Linked DNA regions of Homo sapiens. The protein of the gene in region 1 interacts with the protein of each later gene in a pairwise test. Each region holds a gene or a part of one and is shown in the gene's direction. Other genes may lie near its edges.

What was found.
Region 2: the proteins of DRAM1 (region 1) and TIMMDC1 interact in binary tests that used the Homo sapiens proteins (3 or more experiments, as listed by UniProt).

The regions. Positions count from the first base shown.
Region 1 is NC_000012.12:101,915,259-101,919,079, forward strand, and holds part of DRAM1 (DNA damage-regulated autophagy modulator protein 1), read left to right. Parts: intron 1-3,821. UniProt on the Homo sapiens protein: Lysosomal modulator of autophagy that plays a central role in p53/TP53-mediated apoptosis. Not involved in p73/TP73-mediated autophagy.
Region 2 is NC_000003.12:119,511,726-119,515,546, forward strand, and holds part of TIMMDC1 (complex I assembly factor TIMMDC1, mitochondrial isoform 1 precursor), read left to right. Parts: intron 1-1,915; coding exon 1,916-1,994; intron 1,995-3,821.

The DNA.
Region 1 (3,821 bases):
GTGAGCCACCGCACCTGGCCTTTAATTTCTTTCTTAAACACTTCAACTATCTATCTTTAGTAAAAGAGGGTAGAGGGACAGTGTGAATGAAGGTGTTTGGTGGTGAAAGGGAGCGTGGAATGTTAAGTAGAGAGGATGATACCAGCTCCAGTGTGGTGGATAGTTCATTTCAGGATAGAGTGAGAAATCACTGCAGCCGGGGATAACTGTGCAAGGGTGTAGTGGCTGTAAGAGGCAGGCAGAGAGGCTTGTACTTGGCCTAGGTGACCAGAGTAAGACTTTGAAGACTTTTTTTTTTTTTGAGACGGAGTTTCGCCCTTGTTGCCTAGGCTGGAGTGCAATGGCGCGATCTCGGCTCACTGCAACCTCTGCCTCTCAGGTTCAAGCAGTTCTCCTGTCTCAGCCTCCCAAATAGCTGGGATTACAGGCACTAGCTGGGATTACAGGCGTGCACCACCATGCCCAGCTAGTTTTTGTATTTTTAGTAGAGACGGGATTTCACCGTGTTAGCCAGGATGGTCTTGATCTCTGCACCTCGTGATCTGCCCTCCTTGGCCTCCTAAAGTGCTGGGATTACAGGCGTGAACCACCACGCCCAACCTGCAGACTTTCGAACGGTAAAGCAAATAGAAAGAGTATTATTAGATGAGTGTTAGACAGAAGCAATGCCTGGGATGGCTTGGAGAGCTTGGCATTAGGAGGGCAAGGAGAAGGCAGTTCTACTAGTTCACGTTTCAAATAGGGGAAATCTGATGGGTGTTGGCAAATGATTAACACAAGAATGAAGTGGCATGATGAATCAAAGATGACTTCTAAGTTTTTATCTTAGGTGAACCAAAGAATTTATTCCCTTGACCAGAAATAAGGCCCCTAACAGGGATAAATAATTTAGTAGGTGGAAGTGGATGAGTTTGGTTAGAGTTGATGATTCTGAGGATATGATGAGATATCGAGGTTAGAAACATGGGCCTAGGCCAGGTGCTGTGGTTCATGCCTGTAATCCCAGCACTTTGGGAGGCTGAGGCAGGAGGATTGCTTGAGTCCAGGAGATGAAGACCAGTCAGGGTAACACAGTAAGATCCTGCCTCTACAAAAATTAGCCAGACGTTGTGGCATGCGCCTGTAGTCCCAGCTACTTGGGAAGCTGAGGTGGAAGGATCACTTGCACTCCGGTGGGCCTAGACTTCTGGTGGGACTGGGAGTCGTCAGAGTGTAGGGTAGAGTTGTTAGAGTATGGGGTAGACCAGGACATTTTGGACCAAGCATCAGAACACATGGAACCAAATGTTTGACATTGAGATCAACCCATCCTGTTAGATACCTGTAGTAGTGGTTCATCTAGACGCCTTATAGGAGAATCAAGGATGCCCCAGGAAAGAAGAGAGTTAGTGAGAGACAGAGGATTCTTTCCCCCAAGGATCAGGTGGAAGAATACCTCCAGCAAAGGAGAAGTAAAGGGATCATGGACCAGAGAGAAGAACTAGACTTGTGCTGTATGGTAGACCTCATTGATGAGTCCCTACCACATGCAAGACTGTGAAAGATTATAGAGGGCAGGGTGGCCATGGGATAGAGGATCCTGAGGGATTTTATAGTTCAGAGGGGCAAACAGCCAGTTGTCAATGGCTAAATGTAATACTTTGAAGAATAAAAAAATGCTGAACTGGACTTCAGACAACACATTGTGGAAATGCAGAAGCAATAGCAATTAATCCTAACGATGGAATGAGAGGAGATACGATCCCAGAGACTAAAGGACATTTTTCAAAGGCAAGGGAAATGGCTAACTATGGCATATGCAGCTGAATAGCCTTTAGGAATGAAGTCCCTCAATTTGGGCAATAAGGGAGTCAGTGATGTTTGTCAAAAAGTAGTTTCAGTAAAACGCCGAGGTTAGAAGCCAATGGCAAGAAGTTAAATAGTGAGAGGGATGGTTCTTTCATTCAGCTATCAACCAAATGTTTATTGAGTCCTGTTCTGGACTGGAGGTAAGAGGTAAAGGAGGAACACCAGGGTGGCTAGAGGAGACAGCAGGATTTCCCAATATGGAGAACTCTGGCAGGTAATGGAAGCCTGCCAAGACAAGAGAGAGACAGAAGATGGTGAGGAAGAGAATGATCCAGACAGGAGATCAAAAAGTGCTTCTTGGCCGGGTGCGGTGGCTCAGGCCTGTAATTCCAACACTTTGGGAGGCCAAGGCGGGTGGATCACTTGAGGCTAGAGTTCAAAACTAGCCTGGCCAATATGGCGAAACCCTGTCTGTACTAAAAAAAAAAAAAATTTTTGGTGTAGTGGCACACACCTGTAGTCCCAGCTACTTGGGAGGCTGAGGCAGGAGAATTGCTTGTACCCAGGAGTTGGAGAGCTGGAGGCTGCAATGAGCCGAGATCATGCCAATGCACTCCAGCCTGTGCAACAAGAGTGAGACTCCATCTCAAAAAAAAAAAAAAAAGCCTTCTTTAAAATCTAACCTTAAAATGGTCAAATTCGTCAATAGGTTAGACCTAGGCAAAAGGCAGGTTTTTTTCTTTCTTATATATGGGGAATTAGCCCCATCATGCGAAGGGGGTTCAGTTCCTCTTTCCGTTGGAGAGAACCTCTTTCTGAAAGTGAGACCGCATAGCGGAGCAGTTCAGGTGTACTTTACTTTTCAGCCACTCGGGGGAGACCTTCTATCACAAACCCGCTGCTGGGAAGGGCTTATCGAAGTATATTCCCAGGCAGTTAAAAATCTGTTATATTCCACTTTCTATCTTAAAAATGTGAAAAGCACATGGTTTTCTATTCACTCCATAAATGACTGCGCCACTCTTGCATTTCCTTCTGTTCCTAATATCAAAGGATGTAAAAAAATTTCCCTTTACATTAATTCACTGAATAATCATTTAGGTACTGCCTCAAACTTCTGTGTAGTGCTTTACAGCTTTCACAGCACATTTATATGCAGTGACTTACTTGGTAGGGGGAGGTGAGAATTATAATGTCACTGTCTCATTTCACATAGCAAGGATATTAGGGCTTTGCCTGCATTCAGGACTCTTGGTTCCATGTACTTTCACTAATATCATGCTTAAGAAATTCCCCCCAAAGTTCTGCCTTTATTTTTAGAAGCCATCTTCCTTGTTCAGGGATGATACGGGATGTGGCAGGTCCCCTGGTACTGGTACCAGAAGGAGGAAGCCTCTGTTCTGTATCTCCTACTGTAGGCTGGTCAGGTCCTCCTCGGTGTGACCTAGCATGAAAACAGTGGGTGAGTGTGACCATGACAAGGAGAGTGAAGAGTGACGCTCGGAGGGCTTGGTGTGCCTCCACTCGATCTGTCTGGATGAAAACAGGATCAAAGAAAACAACTGTCACCATGGAGCTGCCCTGTGATCCAGCACATTTACTTACCCTTGTAGCCTACAGCAGTTTGGGGTAGAAGAGCAGTGGGCTCAGCCCTCAACAGCACATGCCAAGGGCAGAGCAGCCCATGTATGCAGCTTCAGAAGGCATGGGGGTGTAGGGAGTTAGGGGTAGTTGCTCATTTCAGCAGAGCAGAAAGTGACGTAGGAAATCAGAGGGGGCACACTGACAGTCCCCAGGCCTCATTTGGCATGTGAGCTAACATCAGAATGCAGACATGCATATTTGACTCAGAGTTTTATTTATTTTTATTTTATTATTATTATTATTATTTTTGAGACAGAGTCTTGCTCTGTCACCCAGGTTGGAGTAGAGTGACGCAATCATGGTTCACTGCAACCTCTATCCCCCAGGCTCAAGTGATCCTCCCAGTTCAGCCTCCCAAGTAGCTGGGACTGCAGGCGCAGGCCACCCCA
Region 2 (3,821 bases), on another chromosome or scaffold:
GAAAGGATAGCTCAGTTGAAGACTGGACAAAGGACATGAATTTGTAATTCACAGACGTACCACAAATAACTTGTAAACCTAGGGAAAAACAACTTTTTTCTACTAATCAGAGAAATGCAACTTAAAAATTACATACCACTTCTGGCCTATCAAATTGGAAAAAATAAACTAAGAGAATGCAGAAGACTAGATTACTTGCATACTTTTATTTGGAAAATAAGTTTATGCATCCTTTTTGAATAGCAGTTTAGTAATTTAAGTCAAAAGCCTTAAAAATGTTTATACTTATACCTTTTGGCCCAGAAATTTCATTTCTGTGAGTTTGTCCTAAGGAAACAATCAAATGTATAAAAAGATTATTTGTGGAGGGATTATCATCATACCTTTATTTAAAATATCTATAAATAGAAAATCTAAGTGTTAGACAAAAATTTGTGGTACCTCCATGCAATGGAACTAGGTGGGAGAAAACTCAGTGATACAGAATTTAATAATATGTTCTGTGAAAATAAAAAATTTAGTATGTACACCATGGCCCCAGTTTTTGTGTTTTTGTTTTATTTTGTTTTTTTAGACAGAGTCTTGCTCTTTTGTCCAGGCAAGAGTGCAGTGACGCGATCTCGGCTCACTGCAACCTCTGCCGCCTGGGTTCAAGTGATTCTCCTGCCTCAGCCTCCTGAGTAGCTAGGATTACAGGTGTGTGCCGCCATGCCCGGCTAATTTTTGTATTTTTAGTAGAGACGGGGTTTCAGCATCTTGGCCAGGCTGGTCTTGAATTCCTGACTTTCGTGATCCACCCGTCTCGGCCTCCTAAAGTGCTGGGATTACAGGTGTGAGCCACCGTGCCCGGCCCCAGTTGTTGTTTTTGTTTTTTGTTTTATTTTGTTTGGAGGATCAGAAAAAAAGACTAACTTATTACTGACTCTGGGTAATGGGATTAAAGGTGATTTTGATTCTTGTTAATTTTGAAAATTTTAAAAATGAATATATAGTACTTAAAAATATAAACCTCAACTGTTATTTATTTTGTTTTTTGAGACAGTCTCATTCTTCCGCTGAGGCTAGAGTGCAGGAGTGTGATATCTGCTCACTGCAGCCTCCGCCTCTGGGGTTCAAACAATTCTTGTGCCTCCGCCTCCTGAGTAGCTGGGATTACAGGCGTGCACCACAATACCCAGCTAATTTTTGTATCTTTAGTAGAGGCAGGGTTTTGCCATGTTGTCCAGGCTGACTTAGAACTCCTGACCTCAAGTGATCCGCCTGCCTTGGCCTCCCAAAGTGTTGGGATTACAGGTGTGAGCCATTGCACCTGGCTTCAAATGTTATTATTTAAAAAGTGTTACCACCTTAGATGGCATTAGTTGCATTGTGCATAGTGAAAGGAAAATGAATGAGCATGATTGATGCACAGTCCCAGCAGAAAGGAAAGAAGTCTTTCTGTGCACTGGTCACCAGGTAGCATTGTAGGCCAAATGCTGCTTGCTTGTCACCCTGCCTGAGTGGTGCCATGTAGCAGTACAGAGAGAGTGAGTCTAGGGGAAGGCATAAACTGGAGGGGCTAGTGAAGGTTTTTTGCTTTTTTATTTTCCTTGAAGAAAGAAGAAAGAAAGAGAAGGGGAAAAACATTTTCAGATTTTTAAGGAGAGATGGGCAAAAATGAAGCAGAATGAATGGATCCATAGAACATATTGAAGATTTACTTTTGTAGAAGGGATGTGTCTTCCTTTGAATCTGCAGAGTGGATGGGAAGCTACCTGTGTTGGCATTTTAGATTCAGGAAGTATAGGCTGTAGTAGTATATTAACATTGGATTCAGAAAGCTCACTTAGGGATTTCCTTTTTGTAGAAGGAAAGTTTTAAAATAGGATTCTAGTTTTAAAGATGATTTAATATTGCCTTTCTTGTTTTTAAATAGCTGTCACGGGAAGTCTTTTTAGGATAAACGTAGGCCTGCGTGGCCTGGTGGCTGGTGGCATAATTGGAGCCTTGCTGGGGTAAGCATTAACATGGTTTGGTTCTAAATTGGCACAATTTTCATTAATACCTTGCCTATTAAAAAGTCTCATTTATTTTCAAAGAACAAATTTAATCCTTAGAATCTATAAAAGATCTCTAGTCTTGCATTGGCAGTAGCTTTGACTGTCCATTCTAATTCTACCCCAATAGTTTATCTTATTTACAGTTTTTATTTATAGTTTCTTTTACTTAGTAGTTATTACAATAAATAACATTGACTCAATACAACTATCTAAGATAGGGCCCTTATTCAAAATGCCTTTTTACCAGCTAAAACTGTTTAAATATTGCTAACACCTGAAACTATAGTTCGAACACAGGTATTTATGGGAGCAGGGAAAAAAGAACAAAAAACAGTTAACAAGCATATTCTGTAAAAATTGTTAGGATTTTGTTTGTTTTGCTTAATACATTTTTAAAAAATGTTCTTCCTCAATTTTTTACTTTGAACAATTTCAAACCTACAGAAAAGTTGAATGAATTAGTACATTGAAACCCCATATACCCTTCACCTAGATTCACCAGTTGTTAACGCCTTGGTGATATTTTCCATATCTATGTATATGTGTGGGATGTGAATATATTTCTTTTTCTTTCCGTTTGCTTCTTGGCTAAACTGTTTGAGACCTCATGATACTTCACCCCCATATATATCAGCATGTATCTCCCAGGATGAAGAATACTCTTCCATGAAATCATAATACAATTATCACAGTAAACATTGTTTCAACACAACTATCTAAGTTAGGGTCTATATTAAAAACTCCTCAGTTATCATACTAATGCCCACATGTTTCTCCATTTTGTTTGATCATCCCATCATGATTAGATTAATGTATTTTTGTCAGGAATACAACATAGGTGAAGTTGTATCCTCATGTATCACATCAGGAGATATTCTGTCACCCATTATAAGTAATATTAACTTTAATTACTTGATATATTGGTTTTCTGCTGTGCAACAAATTACCACAAACTGAGCATGTATTGCATGTGAAACAACACCCTTGTAGTTCTGTAGATTATAAATCTGGCTGGGTTTCCCTGCTCAAGATTTTACAAGGCCAAAGTCAAGGTCTTGGCCGGGCTAGGCTCTTACCTGGAGGCTCTGGGGAAGAATCTGTTTCCAAGCTCATTCAGGTTGTTGACAGAATTTAGTTCCTTGTGGCCAGGCACAGTGGCTCACACCTGTAAAACCAGCAGTTTGGGAGGCCGAGGCAGGTAGATCACTTGTGATCAGGAGTTTGAGACCAGCCTGGCCAACATGGTGAAATGCTGTCTCTACTAAAAATACAAAAATTAGCCAGGTGTGGTGGCAAGCGCCTGTAATCACAGATACTCGGGAGGCTGAGGCAGGAGGATTGCTTGAACCCCATATACCCTTCACCTAGGCAGAGGCAGAGGTTGCAGTGAGCCAAGATCGCACCATTGCACTCCAGCCTGGGCAACAGAGTAAGACTCCATCTCAAAAAAAAAAAAAAAAAGAGGAAAAACTAAAAAAGAATTTACTTCCTTGTGCCTTGAGGTCTGAGGTCCCTGTTTTCCTTGCAGGCTGTCAGCCAGACTATTCTCTGTTCCTGGAGGCCACCCACATTTCTTCTCCTAGGGCCCCTTTGTGTTTAAACCAGCTACAGCACATTAACCCCTTCTCATACTTCAAATCTTTAACTTCTACTCTGCCACCAGCCAGGGAAAACTCTGCTTTTGAGTGTTCACTCAGATAGCCATCTCCTTTTTCATTATCTCAGATTCAACTAATTAGTAACCTTAATTACATTTCTGAAATCAATTTTGCCATGTAAGAT